4 separate regions of the Homo sapiens genome follow, and all the other regions are reported to be linked to region 1. The links are microRNA targets in miRTarBase. Many come from high-throughput screens and were not tested one by one. Region 1 holds a microRNA gene; each other region holds the end of a gene's coding sequence. Distances are between the middles of the regions.
The links. The annotated mature microRNA hsa-miR-6769a-5p reads AGGUGGGUAUGGAGGAGCCCU and lies in region 1 at 1,356-1,376, opposite strand. An mRNA with a match to its seed (bases 2 to 7 or 8) in the 3' UTR can be bound and repressed. Matches are read on the target gene's strand: a 7mer-m8 pairs with bases 2 to 8, a 7mer-A1 pairs with bases 2 to 7 and ends in A, and an 8mer does both.

Region 2: miRTarBase lists FOXRED2 as a target of hsa-miR-6769a-5p. Seed matches in the 3' UTR shown: 7mer-A1 at 241-247.
Region 3: the mRNA of HAPSTR1 is a reported target of hsa-miR-6769a-5p. Seed matches in the 3' UTR shown: 8mer at 615-622.
Region 4: the mRNA of HOXA7 is a reported target of hsa-miR-6769a-5p. Seed matches in the 3' UTR shown: 7mer-m8 at 2,605-2,611.

What each region holds. Positions count from the first base shown.
Region 1 is chr16:4,669,602-4,672,698 of GRCh38, reverse strand. It overlaps MIR6769A (microRNA 6769a), which reads right to left and starts at 1,381; the gene lies at 1,309-1,381. MGRN1 (mahogunin ring finger 1) reads right to left here. Exons shown (of 17, transcript NM_015246.4): 9 at 1,240-1,308.
Region 2 is chr22:36,487,166-36,490,262 of GRCh38, forward strand. FOXRED2 (FAD dependent oxidoreductase domain containing 2) reads right to left here. Exons shown (of 9, transcript NM_001102371.2): 9 at 25-3,097. The coding sequence ends at 2,843. Among named protein-coding and RNA genes, the nearest start is that of TXN2, 7.1 kb to the left of the region's middle.
Region 3 is chr16:9,116,316-9,119,412 of GRCh38, forward strand. It overlaps HAPSTR1 (HUWE1 associated protein modifying stress responses), which reads left to right. Exons shown (of 4, transcript NM_014117.3): 4 at 353-3,097. The coding sequence ends at 597. Among named protein-coding and RNA genes, the nearest start is that of HAPSTR1, 26 kb to the left of the region's middle.
Region 4 is chr7:27,152,146-27,155,145 of GRCh38, forward strand. It overlaps HOXA7 (homeobox A7), which reads right to left. Exons shown (of 2, transcript NM_006896.4): 2 at 1,571-3,000. The coding sequence ends at 2,764. It overlaps HOXA3 (homeobox A3), which reads right to left and starts at 438. Exons shown (of 6, transcript NM_153631.3): 1 at 143-438. HOXA-AS3 (HOXA cluster antisense RNA 3) reads left to right here. Exons shown (of 3, transcript NR_038832.1): 3 at 149-3,000. RefSeq lists an enhancer at 2,374-2,958.

The DNA of each region.
Region 1 (3,097 bases):
TAAAATCTTACTGGAACACCGCCACACCCACTCATTTTTATACAGTCCCCGCTGCTCCTGTTGTAATGGCAGCGTGGAGTCAGTGCAACAGAGACCATATGCCCGGGCGGCTGAAAACATTCCCTCTCTGAACCTTTTCTCAAAGTGGGCCGCCCCCTGGTATGAAACATGAATGCACTGACTTCCCTGGGTTGAGGCGAGGCCCGGCCAGGTGCTCCGCTCCCGCCACGTGGAGCTGCTCCAGTTGTCCTGGGCCCAGATGCCATAATGAAGCGGGCCTGTGAGACTTTCCAAGAGATCTTAAGAGGCAGGAGTTTCACTCATGTCAGTGTGCCTTTTAACAAGTTCATCGACCAGGCGTGGTGGTCTCAGGCCTGAAATCCCAGCACTTTGGGAGGCTGAGGCAGGCAGATCACTTGAGATCAGAAGTTTGAGACCAGCCTGGCCAACATAGTGAAACCCCATCTCTACTAAAAATACAAAAATTAAAAATTAGGCTGGGCGCGGTGGTTCACGCCTGTAATCCCAGCACTTTGGGAGGCCGAGGAGGGTGGATCACAAGGTCAGGAGATCAAGACCATCCTGGCCAACATGGTGAAACCCCGTCGCTACTAAAATACAAAAAATTAGCCGGGTGTGGTGGCGCGTGCCTGTGGTCCCAGCTACTCAGGAGGCTGAGGCAGGAGAATCGCTTGAACCCGGGAGGCGGAGGCCACAGTGAGCCAAGATCTCCCTGCTGCATTACAGCCTGAGCAGCAGAGTGAGACTGACTCAAAAAACAAAAACAAAAAAAACTAATTTCATCCCCTGCTACATTCCCTGACTGGGGTACACCACGGCTTATTTGTCAGGCACCAGGACTGGTTCTATGGACATACAGAATAAGCATCCCTCCCCCAGGAGCTGCAGGGACGTGCTGTCTCTGGGGAGGCGGGCAGGAGCCGGGCAGCAGGGTGCCACACACCTGAGCCTAGAGGGTGAGACACTGGCCCCCATTCCTGGGCTGCCCTGGGGAACCTGGATGGCAATTTACATCAGAAGCTAGTGAATTTGCTGGAGAAAGGATAAAATGTTCCCTAAACTGTTAGCTTTAAAAAAAATTAAGGAAAAATGATGTTGTCTAGCGGGTCTAGGACTCCAGGGGAAGGCATGGAAGGGAACCGGCAAGCATTGCTGTCCGCGGCTGCTCCTGGTGTGGGCTTCTGTAATGGCAGAGGGAAACCTCACCCAGATACACACCTTGGTCTCCTGGTTGTTCTTGTTCTCAATGCCATAGATCTCCTGCAGGAGGTAGCTGACCCGGTCCACCTGGAGAGCAGAGAGGGGCTCACTGGGCCCTCGCCAACTGCCATATGAGGGCTCCTCCATACCCACCTGGCCTAGCCCTGCCTCCAACTTACCAGGCTTCCATACCAGGGGTCAGTCCAGCTCAACCCCTGGGGGCCAGGAGAAGGGCAGGGAAAACCTGCTGCTTGCCCCCACCCAACCAGCAGCACCTGGAACAGGGCTGGAGCCGGTGGCTCTCCCCACTACTGGGGGCCTGAAGCCAACCCACAGGCCCAACCACCACCCCCTGACCGCCTCACCACCCCCAACACCACTTGGCTCCACCACCACCAGCCCCACGAGGAAAGCAGGAGCTGACGCCTGAAGGCACCAGACAGCAGCCTAAGTTCCCACTGCTTTCCAGATCCTCCTTCCAAAAGGCATGAAGCCTCTCTGGTTTCAAAGACGCCAAAGCAATGTCTCCAAGCTGATTCTGTCCTGCCACCCACTTGCAACCAAAAAGCCTCACGCTGACCACATTGCAAAGCGGTTTGTGCTGCTGGGTTTCCCAGAGACCATGGGCCAGGAGCACCACTCCAGGGAGCCCAGGGCCTGCTGGTCAGCTCTCTCAACACAAGGCCCTGACCATCACTGGGGTCTCCTGTTCCCCTGGTACCTGCAGGGACCTGGACCTGCTAGAGTTTGCTGCACCTCTCTTTTGTTTATTGTGATTTACATTTTAAATAGACAGGATCTCGCTACATTGCCCAGGCTGGTCTGGAATCCCCAGGCTCAAGCAATCCTCCTGCCTCCACCTCCCATAGTGCTGGGATCATAGGCATAAGCCACTGCACCTGGACAAACTCTCTTCTAAAAAGCTAACAGATGGCCGGGTGCAGTGGCTTACACCTATCATCCCAGCACTTTAGTAGGAGGCCGAGGCTGGTGGATCACTTGAGCCCAAAAGTTTGAGACCAGCTTGGCCAACATGGCAAAACCTCATCTCTACAAAAAATACAAAAATTAGCCAGGCATGGTGGCGCGTGCCTGTAGTCCCAGCTACTCGGGATGCTGAGGCAGAAGAATCACTTGAACCCAGGAGGTGGAGGCTACAGTAAGCTGGGATCATGCCACTGCACTCCAGCCTCGGCGACAGAGTGAGACTCCATCTCAAAAATACAAAACAAAATAAAACAAAACAAATTAACCAACTGTGGTGGCGCACACCTGCAGTCCCAGCTACTTGGGAGCCTGAACGAGAAATCACTTGAACCTGGGAGACAGAGGTTGAAGTGAGCTGAGATCGCGCCACTGCATTCCAGCCTGGGCAACAGAGCGAGACTCTGTCTTGTCTCAATAAAATAAAATTAAAATTAAAATTAAATTAAATATTTAAAAAATTAAAAACTAACAAAAATCATTCCCAAGTGGTGGCTTGAAACAGGTCTTATGCGCCCCAACAGTACACACGGAGTAACTGTTAGCTGTGGCCTAGGACATCTCATTAGCAAGATCTAACACTGCTGTTTAGGGCACCCCATCCTCTAAATTCTCGGTGCCTACTTGTGAGGCCACCAGGAATAACACTTCCCAATGCAGCATCCCAGGATCGCTGACCCCAGAGAACAGATGTACTGCTCTATAGCTCCATTTATTCTCAACTATTTAATCCTTCTTTTCAAGTATTGATGAAGTCAAGCTAAGTCTCTGTCCAATACTGACATATTGGACAATTTGTAAGGAAGAGGAGAAGGAGTTGCAGACTTTGTTTCTGGTCTCTTTCCTTCCTTTTCCATCCATCCATTCGGCAAATATTTACTTAACACTATGT
Region 2 (3,097 bases), not on the chromosome of region 1:
AAAGAAATAGCACTCAAACATACATTTTCTCAGCAAGGCAATTTTACTTCTATACAAGAGTGCGTCTCATGGATGGTGCAATGGCGAGAGCACACCGGAACAAGGGAGGGGAATGGGTTCTTATCCCTGATGCAGGTACCCCCTACTGCTGTGTTGTTCCCCTATGGGCTAGGGTTGGACCGCACAATCTAAGCTAATTCTGACTGGCTATTTTAAAGAGAGCAGGGGTATAAGCCAGAGTGGTGGGGTGAGAAGTTTAGACAGGAAAGATGGTTACGGACCAGGTGACTAAAGGTGACTCAGGTCAGAGCAGGTGACAGAGGCTAGGAGGGGATTGTTTACTGAAACTAGGGGCAAGGAGACATAAAGAATGAGGAAATTAAAAGTTAAAATGAAGAACAAAGAACAGGTGAGCTGAACATACTGATACATTGGTTCTTTGGAGAGGATCTCAGAACTCAATGTACTTAACAAATTACAGGCTAAAACCTTTGAAGAAGAATTTATGATATCCTACATTATCATGGGGTAAACAATTCGTCCCTGACAGAATAAGGCTACTGGAGTTCTCTTCTTGTAACTCTGGGAAGGACTAGAGGGAACTGTGTCTGCAGTGGGGCCAGGTAGTTAAAAAGTCTGGACTGGGCCGAGCGTGGTGGCTCATGCCTGTAATCCCAACACTTTAGGAGGCCAAGACAGGTGGATCACCTGAGGTCAGGAGTTCGAGACCAGCCTGGCCAATGTGGTGAAACCCTGTCTCTACTAAAAATACAAAAATTAGCTGGGCGTGGTGGCAGGCGCTTGTAATCCCAGCTACTTGGGAGGTTGAGGGAAGAGAATTGTTTAGACCCGGGAGGCAGAAGTTGCAGTGAGCCGACATCGTGCCATTGCACTCCAGCCTGGGTGACAAGAGCGAAATCCATTGCAAAAAAAAAAAAAAAGAAAAAGAAAAAGTCTGGACCAAGCCAAGAGGGGAAGAGGACGTCCCCATGAAAGAGCTTTGGATCCAGAAAGCCCGGGTTCTTGGAATTCTTTTTCTCTTTTCACTTTTGTTGTAGCATACTTTGTTCTTTTTTATTTTTTATTTTTTTGAGATGGGGTGTGGGGGCTTTACTGTGGGTCTTGCTTTGTCACCTAGGCTGGAGTACAGTGGCTCGGTCTCTGCTCACTGCAACCTCCACCTCCCAGGTTCAAGCAATTCTCCTGCCTCAGCTTCCCAAGTAGCTGGGATGACAGGCATGCTCCACCATGCCCAGCTAATTTTTTTTACCGTTAGTAGAGACAAGGTTTTGCTATGTTGGCCAGGCTGGTCTCGAATTCCTGAGCTCAGGTGATCGGCCCACTTTGGCCTCCCAAAGTGCTGGGATTACAGGTGTAAGCAACTGTACCCAGCGCATGTTTTATTTTAATTTAATTTAATTAACTTATTTTTTGAGATGGAGTTTCCCTCTTGTTACCTAGGCTGGAGTGCAATGGCGCAATCTCGGCTCACTGCAACCTCTGCCTCCCGGGTTTAAGTGATTCTCCTGCCTCAGCCTCTCCAGTAGCTGGGATTATAGACATGTGCTACCACGCCTGGCTAGTTTTGTATTTTTAGTAGAGATAGGGTTTCTCCATGTTGGTCAGGCTGGTCTCAAACTCCTGACCTCAGGTGATCCACCTGCCTGGGCCTCCCAGAGTGCTGGGATTGTCCTTGGAATTCTGAGTGGATACATGAAGAGTTAGTAAGAACCAGTGAAAAAGCAATCACTTATGATCCTGGGCTTTGAAAAATCACTGTGATTATCTTATGCACTTACAAATGAGACTAAGACGCCTGATGGGAAAGTGCAGATTGCTGGTGAGGAAGGGCAATGAAGAAGAGACTAGGAACCAAATTCATCATCATTATCACACAAAGGCATTTGGAAATGTCACCTTACACATGGTGAGCACATATGGGTGCCAGCCCGAGACAGCAGGATAAGTTTCACAAAACTTGACCAGGCAGGTTAGAAGCAAGGCATGGTTCAGGATGGCAGAGGGCAGGGAGACAGAAGGGAGTAGGATGGGAGAGAAGAGCCAGCTGGAAGATGAGTCAGGGGGTGCAACTGGGGAGAGCAGCTCTGAATCCTGCTTCTCAGTGAGAAAGTTGCTAAGATGGCTTTGCAGGGAGCTGTCCTATCGCTGCTCGAGATCAGCCTGCTGGGCCTATGATGATAAGCAGGGCTGACCCTCTTGGGCTCTGTAGCTAAGCCCAAACCCTGCTGAAAATGGGGCGGGGAGGTTGAGGCAGTGTGTGGCAAGTGACACAGACGGGGACTCCCAGCTGGGGGTCCCTGGAATTACTTGACATCCCACAGCTGGTGTCTTCAGCAGTCATCTGGGGCAACAATCCCACCTGCCCATTGTGGTTGTTGAGGATATCAGAGCTTTTGTTTTAAAGCGCTTGCCACAAACTCTTAAGATGCGGATGGGTTTCCCCTGTGAAGCACTCCACAGGCGGGATGCAGGCCCATCTGAGGAGGGGCTTGGAAGGAAGAGGAGCACTTGAGACGGGGCAGAACTGGGCTGGCCTGGGGCTCAGCGACAGCTCCATTGCAGACAAACTGGGCTGGGGAAGGCAGCTCCCACCTGGCAGAGGATGCCCTTCTGCCCCCTGACAGGAGGGAGGAGACCACCGCATCCCCGACTTTCAGCCCTCACGTGCCATCTGGTGGCTTTGCTGCAGACACTGCCATGATCTGAGTGGTCTTTGGCAATCACGCATTGGCGGGAGTGTGAGGTTGCGGGGAAAGAGGGACTGACCATGGGCCTAGGTGGGGAGGCCTGGCCACTGTGCCCACAGCTTAGGAAGGGACAGTCAGAGCTCCTCTTTGTTGCTATCGACGGACTGAGCCAGAGGCCCTGGAGCCAGGGGGGAACCTAGTGGCTCTTGGTCGCCAAGCTGCTGGCTGCTGTCCTCCAGGCGCCTGCCTGTGGGGGCATAGTCCCGCAGGAGCCTGCTCTCCACTCTGTGCTGCCAAAGGCTCTCGGTACTCACGAGTCCCTGCATCCTCAGGTACCCCTGCTGGCAAAAGGGTGGCAACTTCTGGCGCGTGAGGGCGAACAGGAAGCA
Region 3 (3,097 bases), 4.4 Mb from region 1:
GTCTTTAAAGCAAATGTCTCCTGTCCTTATCTGTAAATTTTGTGCAGTACCTACCTCATAGATGGGAGAATTTAATGAGATATTTGTACACCTAGCACGGTGGTTGACACGTAGTAACTTTTAGTAATTGGTAGTTACCAATATTGTAGATATTGGTAGTATTACCAATAAAATATATGTCAAGGCCAGATGATATGTTTATCCAGAATAAAACTTAATTGCTTACTAGTAATCCCTTATAAAGGAAATAGGCAGACATGCTTTGACATTGTGACAACATGGAAAGTAAGTGGGTTGCTTTCAAAAGGGTTACATAATTGAGCAACTCTAAAACCTTTTTTCTTCTTCCTAGGTCTTAGTGGTGCAATGGCTAGTATAAGCGTGCGTTCGAGTACCCCAGGCTCTCCTACACATGTAAGCAGTGGATCGAATGCTAGTCGAAGGAGAAATGGACTCCATGATGTCGATTTGAACACTTTCATATCAGAAGAAATGGCACTCCACTTGGACAATGGTGGAACTAGAAAGCGTACCTCAGCCCAGTGTGGCGATGTCATTACAGACTCACCAACCCATAAACGCAACAGAATGATCTAAACTGCAAACATTTTCACACCCACCATGCTGCTTGAAAGCCACTTGATCCTCAACATATACTATAATTGCAAAGGAAACATGAGGCCATCTTCCCTTGTTCACTGTTTAAGACAAGTGAATTCTATAGTGGTTGCCATAAAAGGAAGTTCTAGGTATTTATAGTAGATGCCTCTTGTAATTATGGCTTTCTTAAAACTATAATCCTAGCAGAGGACATCAGATATTGTGTAGTCGTTAGCAAGATCATCATAGGCAAACATATATCCGTTCCAAGGCTAAAAGTGACCTTAACTGTATTTATTCTCAAAGGGAAAGGAAATATCAGATGTTTATTTGGTTATAGAATGCTTTTTTTTTTTTTGGGTCCATTTCCTGCTGTGTTGAGTATTTTGCTTCAACAGTATTGCCAGGTTCCTAAAATTGTCTAAAAACATGATTTGGCTTCCATTTTTGCAGCTGCACTGTACCATGCACCTGGTTTCTATATAGTAACAGTGTGCAATTCTAATTATTGGACTGTGCCCTGTTTTTAGTTTTCAAATCAATTTCTAATTCTGGTGATTGTGTGATGTAAAGAGGTGCTATGATGGTCATGCAATTAATACTAAATATTGAATCAATGCCCAGAGCTTTATTGGATTCACTTTGTGTGTGTTAGTGCTCTAAAGTAGCAGTATTATTATTAAACTGTCCCCAGAGTAACCCTGTAGGCCTAAAGTACTCAGTTTTAAGACAAACACTACTTCCCATGCGGGGTACTTTCCTTATGGTAAATGTAAACATGTAGACTGCATTCGAGGTGACCTAAAGTAGAGAGGTCATGAACTTTGAGAATGGGCTTCCTTTTTGGTTCAGTATTAGTGAGAGGGAGAGGGAGATGGATGGTGGGGTAGGTTTTCTAGTCTATCATTTTACATTTTTCATGGAGTCCCTGCTTAGTGCAGTTTCCATTGGAATGGGTGGAAGATGATAAAGCTCTCTTTTTTATCTACTAATAATGTGATTGCAACTTAAAATAGCAAAACCCAACTCTCCCTGTCCCTCCAATCCCTCTCCTAAAAAGTTCAGTTTGGAATCTCATTCTGGAAAAGATGGAATCGCATGGAGATTCTCTAGCTGTTAGGTAGACCTAAATAAAAAGTTCTCAATAGATTCCTCTTTTGAGTAAATATAAGACCTCTTGTAGCTACAATGTTTTAGAGCATGTTTCATCTTCATTTTTAATATCCTGAACTGAATGATAGTGTTTTTTTAGATGAAGAACTGATGTCAGCCTGCCAGGTACTGTAATTTATTCTATCATATTATTATATTATATATCAAGTAGGACAGTGAAAAATGTTTCCTTGCAAACTTGTAGTCCAGTATCAGTTACTTCCTATTTTTATCCTTAAAAGACCATTGCAAATCAGTGTAAGGGTTTTTCCAGTAATTACTCACAGCACTTTGTTAAAGTTTGCAATTTCTTCAGCCATTTAATAATATCTTTCTGTGAAGAAACTTTGCTGAGTTAACCATAAATGTTCATTCATTGACTGGGTGGGATGTGAATGGAATGTTAGAAATGTTGTGTGAATTGAAGTTCTGTATTCATTATAGATGTAGCCCTTATTTAAAAAAGTGAATTCCATACTAAAACTAGGAATGAAAGTGAGAGATTTCTAAACTTTTGCGAAAGTGGGTCATTTTTTGTTTGACTATAATAGCAGGAAGAATTATAGCAATCTGTCATTTTACCTGAAACAGACAAGCCTATGTATTATGAATACTTTCAAGCTTCCCTTTGGAATATACAAGACATGCGTTTGGAGTTACCTTTGTTTTTCTATCGTAAATTTAGATTCTGGAATTGGGGTTTGGTGGTGCAATGTGTTGCTCACAAGTGGCCAGAACTCCTATTCCTAAAAGGATTTTGAGATGGAGGAACACATATTTAATTCCCCTTTATGCCTTGGTTCTTGCTCCTCTTTCCACGTTGGATAACAATTTTTTGGTTGTTTTGTTTAAGTTGGTGCTCTGAAGCTTAATCTCAGTACCCTTTACTCTGAATTGTCAAATTTTGATAAAACGTGCCATTTTCTTTGGTAAGAGAAAGCAGGTCTTAATGTCTGCCAGAACACAATTTATATGCCTTATTGGCTTCATTAAACTTTTAGAAAACTTTAGCATTTGTTACTTTTTTCCATTGCGTTTACTTTCAAATGCACCTAATGAATTTGTCACCCAGTCGCAACTTTTCCCTTCTCTGTCCCATTGCTTTCTCCTTTCCCCGACGCACAGAATAAACATGAAGCTCAGCAGTAGAAGCGTAATGATTTCCCTCAGGAAAAACTTCTGACAGCTAGGTTTTTCAAGGGTTTCCCTGTGCTAGCTGAGATGCAAAACAAATCATGGAAGATTGCATACCTGTGTGGTATTTTAAAAACAAGTTGACTTTTTCAGTTTCTTGAACGGTTAAGGGTGGATTTAAAAACTAGACAGTTTAGTTTTGGGGAACAGA
Region 4 (3,000 bases), not on the chromosome of region 1:
ATGGGGGCAAGTGTGAATGGGTGAGTATGGGTAAGGGGGAGTATGCCCCTCTTAAAGCCTCCCTGGGTGCCCTCTCCCACCGCTACCGCCGCCGGCTGTCGCCTCACCACCTTTGCTCCTATCTCCTCCCCACATGTCTCACCTTCAGACGGTGGCTCCCAGAAGCTCCTGCCCCTCTGACAGCTGTCGCTTGGGCAGCCCGAGAGAAGAATTGTCCTCTTTCCTGGTGCCAGAGGACGCAGGAAATTAGCCAGGTTGCGAGTTGCAAAGCTGCTGCCGCGGCGCCGGGAACGGAGCGCGCCCAATCTCCAGCGGGAGCCGCCAGGCCTGGCCTGGCCGGGGCTTCCCTTCGCTCGCCATCTCCGGACAAAGCACAGCCGAGCCCGGCTGGAAGGCAGAGCTCCGAAGCAGGCAGGACGGAGCGGAGCAAAAGAATGCGGCTCTATTCTCGCAAGGGAAATTATAAAAAAGTTCATGTTCACGGTTCTCATCCACATGACCGACAGCGGCCAATGGAAGGGCCGAACAACTCATAAAGTTGTATTGCAAAGTTGTAAATTTTCATAAACAACAACGGATTTATGACCCTTTCCCCATCACTGAGAGGAGGCAGCTCTTACACCGGCGCCATCTTACCACCGAGGCCGCCCCGACTTGGGGCCTCAGGTTTTACAGACCCTTTTGGGCCAGGTTTTACTAAAAGAGCCATAAGAAGCGGGCCCAGCCCAGGCAGGAGACTGGAGACGAGGTCTTGCAGGCGGAACTCAGGATGCTCTGAGCTGCCCGCACAACCCCTGGACCTTCACCCCTCGCCCCTTCCCCGCATCCAGCTGCCCCAGCCCCTGCCCAGGCTGCGTAGCCTAGCGGGGGTCTGCGGTCCTAGCCCCTCCCCGCGCCACCTACTGCAGTGCCGGACCCTGGGGCCCCCTCGCCTGGTCTGCAGGCGGGGTGGGGACCTTAAATCCCATTTCCTAGCCTGGGGCTGGGTTCAGGGCGCATGCGAATCCGGAATCAGCTCTGGGTAATGCCCCTTTCCAAGCCCACTGCTCAGCCTTAGAGGAAAGTGTGGATTTGAAATTTCCTCATGGAATTGATGGAGGTTTTTAGGTAGATTCATAGAATATAACGTATCTACCAAAGATTCCGTTTTCAAGGGATCTAGAAGATGTTAGTGCACACGCAAAAACCAGACAAACGTCTCTACACGGATAAAGGCACATATACAATTATGCACACAGGGAAGGGCATACACTCTATTGTGGGCACAGAATGACATGCAATTATGGACACACAAAAACACATGCACCCAATTATGGACACCAAAATATATACAATTGTGGAATTAGGTAAAAACACACACACAGAAATACATACACAGAAAAATAAGCACATACTCATACAAATACACACATAAAAATACATTAAAAAGATACATGACACCAATACATGGGTACCCAACACTTGGACCATCACAAGGACAGCCACCCCACTTTTGCTTCCCCACTGCCCCCTGCCCTCCAGCCATACTCACCTCCCCTTTCCCAGTCCCCTCTGGATAAGGCAGTCCACATTTTTCTTTGTCACCACGCATCTTTATTTTCGGTTACATAAAACACAGCTGGGCTGGGAAGTGTGCCTTCCCTGAACCCCAGGATGGAGCTGAGCAGGGTACAGGACAACACAGGAGATGAAGGGCATTGCGGAGGGCATTGGACCTCCCCACCCACTACAGTTAACTCAAGACAACATACCATGCTACAAAGTCACCCCATTAACACATCCTTTCCAAGTCAAGACACTGCCTTACAAATGAACTCCAAGACTATAGAAATGATAAAAAAAAATCTTGTTCAAATATACAGTATCTGCTATTATAGGAAACATCAGGGCGTACATATTTAACACAGCTGAACAGTAAGATACAGGAGCCAGAGGAAAGGACAGCGAAGCTGGAAGCATCTCCACAGTCCTGCTAAGCAGAAGCTAACCCACAGATCTGCAGCCAGCTCAGGAACATTCCCCTCCAGAAGTGGGGGTTGATGGGCCTGAGCTGTGGGTGCCAAGCCAGAGAAGGAGGGATTGATTCTAGGGTGCAAGCACTTAGGATGCTTTTTGGAATAAATATATTATTTTTCGATTTAAATAGATGCCAATACCCTGATCCTGGACCTCAGCACATTCTCAGGGCAGCCTCAGGGACCCCAAAAGCTGCGGGCTGTAAGCAGCAGGGGACTTGCCTGGGAGCAGTCGGCACTAGGTAGCAGGCAAGCCAGCCAGCACAAAATAGGTAGTTTTAGGGGAGTAGGTAGTAGTGAGATTCACTTTCTTGCGGGTCTGGGAGGGTGGTGCTGGGTGTCTGCCAGTGTTGGGATACATAGGGACTTCCTGGGAATGGAGGCCCTCTGGGGCTGGATACATAGGTAGTTTGGGGGTGCCTCGAGCAGAGGCCTGTGCTAGGTAGTATTTTGGACGCGCCAGAGCAGGGCCGGCTGGCCTGGGGTTGGGGGTGTCTTTTGGGGTCCTCGGAGGCAGAGGGAATCCAAGGCGACCCAGTCTCTGCGGCCGCTCAGTCCACAAAAGTTGGGAGCTGGAGTAGGTGATGGGGGTGGGTAGAGTGCAGGTTGGGGACTGGGTTGCTTTTTTGTTTTTGTTTTTGTTTTTTACATTTTCTTTTATTTTTCCCATTTTTGTAAGTAAAACCAGTGAGTCTCTTAAAGACGCTTTTCCGACTGTCCGGTGCAGAGAGGGCCCCGGATCGGCCCCTCATTCCTCCTCGTCTTCCTCTTCTTCATCATCGTCCTCCTCGTCGGCCTTGTCCGCGGCAGCAGTGGCGGCGGCAGAGGGCACGGCGCCCTCGGGAGCTGCGGCGGCAGTCGGACCTTCGTCCTTATGCTCTTTCTTCCACTTCATGCGGCGGTTCTGGAACCAGATCTTAATCTGGCGCTCGGTGAGGCAGAGCGCGTGGGCGATTTCAATGCGGCGGCGCCGCGTCAGGTAGCG